2 separate regions of the Homo sapiens genome follow, and region 1 is linked to region 2. The links come from fine-mapping of genetic effects on gene expression. A gene starts in region 2. The other region holds a variant in brackets. All regions are shown on one strand. Distances are from middle to middle.

Region 1 (2,912 bases), 730 kb after region 2:
AAGAAGTCAAAAGCAAAAGATAGTGGTATTGCCGAAAACTCATTATTTCTAGTTAGTTCATCTGTGGAAAAGGATATCGTTCTTGAGGAGAGGGGTTCTATTATGCTATAGTTTTCTATGGAAATGTACAAATGCTTTCCTCATTGCTCTGGATGACTATTTAGTTTAAATAATATACCTTTGTCATGGGGAAGACCATGATTGTGGCTTCTTCTACCCCAACTTTGAATGAGAGAGCACTGTAAGCAGAAACTGCCATCAGTCTCCTGGGCAGGACCTGGAGGTAACTTTCTGAGCTGTAAAATAGTAATTCCTAAGAGAGCTTACAAACTGCTTCCACACAGAAAATAGCGCAGGGAGGACAGTTATTAGTACCCCTATTCTAGAAGAGAAAGCTGAGGCTCAAGCCATTAAGTGACTTGCCAAAAGCTGTGACATAGCTGGGAAGTGGCAGATTTGGGGATATAACCAGGTCTTGCAAGTCCAGTGCTGTCTCCAAGTAGCCACGCTCACAGCTGAGAACACCTTAGAGGACAATATCGACTTCTTACAGACTACCAAGCCCCCAGTCATCCAGGGAAATTCAGAGACCAATTGACTGCCAGGTGGCAAATCCACATGTGTACTGCGGTCTTTAGAGATCATTTAGAGCTTGCACACATCTGTGTCTTCTTGTGGGAAACCTCTAGGTATTCTGTCTGATCAGCACTGTGAGGAAGTTGGTGGGAAAAGGCCACTGATAAGAACAAACAATGGGCAGAAGGAAGCACATTGCAATAAATTTCCCCAGAGAGAGTTCCTTTACATTCCATTCACCAAAAACCTCTCTGGAACTGTCAGGTTCAGAATATCAACCAAGACCATATCATTTAGAATTCATTGGCATGTAGAGGTGACTCGATTCCTAAAAGAAGCCTCTCTCCCATGAACCACGATGTACGTTCCACAGAGGCAGAAACCGCCGTAGGTTAGCAATGCATTTTAGTCTTTCTCTCCATTCACATTTACTGAGAGCACACCACGTGCATGTTGCTGCAACAGGCATTTCCGATAGAGCCGATCCATGAGCTAACAATGTCTGAAAACAAATGTTATGGAACTGTTGGCATTTCTGAGATTTGGCCTTTGCCATTTGATAGACTTTGCTTCCCAGGATGCTGTCATTTTGTGATTTTTTATAATTACAAGGAATTTGGTACCATGTTGTTTTCAAAAAACCTCCTAGAAAGTCTCCATGTATGCTCTAGAAGTTGCTCTACGTAACAGTTCAGCAAGCAAGTGTTCCTTCTCTTGAGCTGCGTCCCTCAGGAAGCTGTACCTTTAGGGTGTGCTTTCCACTTTTTATTTCCTCTCATTTCACTCCTTTC[A/G]TTGTTTGCTATATCCTAAAATATGTGAAGTGAGAGAAAAAATATCATTTCTTCTCATTAAATCTCCTGCATTAAATCTAAGAATCCTTTAAAATAATCACACCTGATAAGTGTTTTATGCATTTCCCTCCCTGGAGTGTTATCATCCATCAAGCCAGTATCATCATCCACCTGCTTATTCCTTGGGACTAATGAGAGCCAAGTTAAATAGCAAATGACTTCTCACCCCTTCCTAGTCCTCATGCCTGAGGAATAAGGGCGACATTAATGGGAGCGGGAGAGTGGTGGCTTTGGTTGAGATGCACGTTCACAGACTAGAAAAGTGCCTCACCTCCATGGTGTATATGTGCCACCTTTTCTTAATCCAGTCTATCATTGTTGGACATTTGGGTTGGTTCCAAGTCTTTGCTATTGTGAATAGTGCCGCAATAAACATAAGTGTGCATGTGTCTTTATAGCAGCATGATTTATAATCCTTTGGGTATATACCCAGTAATGGGATGGCTGGGTCAAATGGTATTTCTAGTTCTAGATCCCTGAGGAATCTCCACACTGACTTCCACAATGGTTGAACTAGTTCACAGTCCCACCAACAGTGTAAAAGTGTTCTTATTTCTCCACATCCTCTCCAGCACCTGTTGTTTCCTGACTTTTTAATGATTGCCATTCTAACTGGTGTGAGATGGTATCTCATAGTGGTTTTGATTTGCATTTCTCTGATGGCCAGTGATGGTGAGCATTTTTTCATGTGTTTCTTGGCTGCATAAATGTCTTCTTTTGAGAAGTGTCTGTTCAATACTATGCAGCCATAAAAAATGATGAGTTCATGTCCTTTGTAGGGACATGGATGAAATTGGAAATCATCATTCTCAGTAAACTATCTCAAGGACAAAAAACCAAACACCACATGTTCTCACTCACAGGTGGGAATTGAACAATGAGAACACATGGACACAGGAAGGGGAACATCACACTCTGGGGACTGTTGTGGGGTGGAGGGAGGAGGGAGGGATAGCATTAGGAGATATACCTAATGCTAAATGACGAGTTAATGGGTGCAGCACACCAGCATGGCACATGTATACATATGTAACTAACCTGCACATTGTGCACATGTACCCTAAAACTTAAAGTATAATAATAATGAAATAAAATTAAAAAAAAAAAAGAAAAGTGCCTCACCTCCCTGTGAGGCTTGATGAATATTGTGGCCAGTGAGTGGAAAATGATTCTTGTCGAATAGACAGAGTATTCCCACCCCAGGAATGGATTAATAGAAGACACAATTTGAGCACTTCTCAGAATTATCTAGTATGCCTGAGTAGAGACTCACATGGGTGGAATCTGTGTTGTCTCATCAGAGGGAATAAAAAGACAATGAGGTGGTAAATGTGAAAAAAGCAGCCTTTTAGAAAAACATTATTTTCAAATACCTTTATAAATCATCTAATTTATCTTCACATAATATAAAGAAAAAACTAATAAAAATTTTCGTATTTCACTTTACATAATATGTTCTCCCATATTTAGGGATCATACAATTGT
Region 2 (2,912 bases):
AAGGGGGGACTACGCTCTGTCCTATCTAACTCACCTGAAGATGCAATAGCCGGGTGAGAGACTGCTTTCATTATGTGCTAACGTGAGGGATTACTTTAGATATTAATAGGAGAGAAGTGCAAGGAAAGGAAGTCTCAGGGTATGGAATGCTTTCCTGGCCATGGCTGCTGCGCGTCATAATCCCCTAACACAGTTAAGTGGTGGTTCTCATCGTCGTTCACCCTTACAGATGTCAGAGGGGAAAGAAAAATCCAACTCAAAACTTCCAATGACAGGCTTGTCTGTATTCAAACCAGTTCATCTCGTTCGCAGACTTTTTTGAAGCTATAAGCACAGAGCAAGCTTTCTGGGCGGGGCTCAGAAGTAAACGTTAAACTCCAGGGATTCATTTATTTGAGCACAGGACAGAGGAAGTTGCCCTGAAGCAACTGATTGTCATTGATATTCAGGGCTCGCTGTCAACCAGGACCTTCCAGGAACTGGCTCTGGGCCAAGAGCAGTAGAAATCACTGGGTGGTCCGCACAGCTCGCGGGCATCTAACCTGCTTCAAGGCTCAGGGCTAAAAGGGAGCCAGGGCCCTTCCTGGAGGCGGGAACCCAAGTGGGAGGCAGAGCGCCTGGGCCCGCTCCTCGATCTGCTGAGTGACGACCCTGTACAAGTCATTTCTCTTCCGAGAGCTTCAGTTTCCTCACGTGCCAAGCGGACGGGTTGGAAGTTGGTCTTTGCCAGCTCTGACACCTTGTAAGTTTTGAGTCTTGCTGGGAATCCAGGGCGGGGCTCACGAGGAAAATCTTGGAAGGGGATTTCATGGCTGGATCTCTTCCACTCAAGCTCAGTGCCCTAATTTGACGCCTTAATAGTAGACGCAGGCTTTTCCATTTTCCAGGAGCCCCCTGACGCGGCCGCTTCCTCCTACGTCTCCTTCCTCTTCCTCTAGCAGGGGCAAAGTCTCCACATCTCCCTCTTTCTCTTCCTCCTTTGCAAGCTCCCTGCATTCCCGCGTCTCCTCCTCTTCCTCCCAGGAAATGCAATGCCCTCAGTGCGCCCACCTTTTGGCAAAGCCACTGCCGGCTGCGGGTTTCCCCTCCCCCGCCAGGCGAGCTCTGCGCGGCGGCTTCGCGGGCACACGCCTTCCCATACCTTACATGGACAAATGCGTGCAGGCAAAGTCAGGAATTCAGGCCCCTGACGTCAGCCTCCAGCGCTCAGGGCACCGCACGGGAGACCAAGGGGAGGGGGTGGGGACGGTGGGGAGGAAGGAGGGGGAAAGGCACCAACCAGCAGCCGCTCCAGCCCTGCCGAAGTTTCACTTTTTGTCTGTGGGTTCGTTCCCGGGTCCCGCGCGAGCTTTCCCGGGATAAGTAGCTTTAGCGATCGGGAGACAGCCGGGCGCTGCAAGGTAAGGGCTGGCTGCACGGCCCGGGGCGCGGGGCGTGGGGCGCTGGGCGCGGGCGGCGCGCTCGAGGAGGCCAGTGTGGGGCGCGGGGCCGGGCCTGTCCGGGGCTGGGGACAATGGGAGGGGGAGTGCCCGGGCACCTCCTCCTCTGCCTCTGCCTCCGCCTCCAGCCGCCGCCGCCGCCGCCGCCGCCGCCACCACCACCGCCGCTGCCCCGGCTGCCTCCTCCCTGAGGTATTGTTGCAAATCCTTCCTTCCCCTCACCCTCCACCCGCGGGCGCCTCGGGAACCCCCAGCCCTCCCCCGGCGCGAGCGCCTCCGGGGTGGCAAGAGCGCAGGGCGCGCGCCCTGCTCTGGCCTGGCCCGCTGTGCGGAAGTGCCGGCCGCGGCCCAATCACGGGGTGCACGCCATGGGGGAGGGGGACCCAGAGTTTTTCCAAAAGCGTCGACCCCAGGCTAGGCGGGGTTGGAGCCTTGCGCGCCCCCTGCCCGGACTTTTCTGGGCGCCCAGGGGGCGGGGCCACGCCCATCCGCTTAGAGCTTTCGCGGAATCACAGTTGTCACAGCGGAAAGGGCCTAGACCCAGTCCTCCAAGTCCTCCCATTTTACAGTTGGGGCAGCTGAGGCCCAGAGAGAAGGAGGGTCGCCCGGAAGTTATTTACTAGAGGCCAGACCATAATTCAAATAGTTGGCTCCGGACTTAAGTTCCCTTTCTCTAAGCATTTCTCTAGCACCCTGTGTGTGGCAGACCCTGTGCTGGGTGTATTGGACGTTGCCCTCAAGGAACTCAGTTGAACCTGGGAGTCAAACCTGGCCTAGGGTAGAAAATGCTAAGTGCTGGAGCAAAGGCGTGGACAAAGTTAAAGGAAGTTCCAGGGAGGGGGTTTGATTTTCTGGTCCCTGGGACGGCCTTTTGGAGAGTCCTGCACTGAATGGGGTTTTTGGAGGTTGAGGAGTTTCCTGAAGCCAGCTAGCGGCTTGGAGGAAGACATCTCTTCGAGGGAACCGTGGGCCAGAGAAGACTAAGTAGTGTGGGAAATGGAGATGAAAGTATAAATATTCTTTAGTTGGAGGCAAGGGGTTGGGGATGGGGGAGGTTGTGATATGAGATGAGCTAATCAGTGGAATTGTGCCTGGGTGCTTGGACAGGGCAGAGTCTTTGGAACCTCGGAGTCGTAGGAGAACTGAAAAATCTCTCTGGCTTCCCTTCCCTTAGAAGGGATCCACTGCTTTCCCTCCCCCAACACAAAACAACTAGCGAGAACTCAGGGTCTTCTCTGGGGCTTTTGCTAGTACCAAACTCACTTAACTGTGTTTCCAGTCCCCTTTCTCTTTCCATTCCTTCCCCTTTTACTAAATCTCTTGCCTTTCCTGTAAAATTCACTCTCACTAAGGTGTTGATGACTTAATGGCTTACCTTTCCCTGCACATGTGCATTTTAAGAAAGCCTAAAGTGAAGAAGGGGAAAGTGTGGCTAGGCACCTTTACAAAGCATCTAGCTCCCTCTCCCATCCT

The links.
Region 1: its variant is fine-mapped to the expression of LPP in whole blood (INTERVAL, PIP 0.97).

Annotation. Positions count from the first base shown.
Region 1 is chr3:188,883,796-188,886,707 of GRCh38, forward strand. LPP (LIM domain containing preferred translocation partner in lipoma) reads left to right here. Exons shown (of 12, transcript NM_001375462.1): 12 at 1-2,912. Among named protein-coding and RNA genes, the nearest start is that of TPRG1-AS1, 62 kb to the right of the region's middle. The variant A/G (reference allele first, on the strand shown) is at 1,368.
Region 2 is chr3:188,152,622-188,155,533 of GRCh38, forward strand. It overlaps LPP (LIM domain containing preferred translocation partner in lipoma), which reads left to right and starts at 1,536. Exons shown (of 12, transcript NM_001375462.1): 1 at 1,536-1,631. LPP-AS2 (LPP antisense RNA 2) reads right to left here and starts at 1,467. Exons shown (of 1, transcript NR_036497.1): 1 at 1-1,467. RefSeq lists enhancers at 71-971, 2,771-2,912 and a silencer at 1,404-1,743.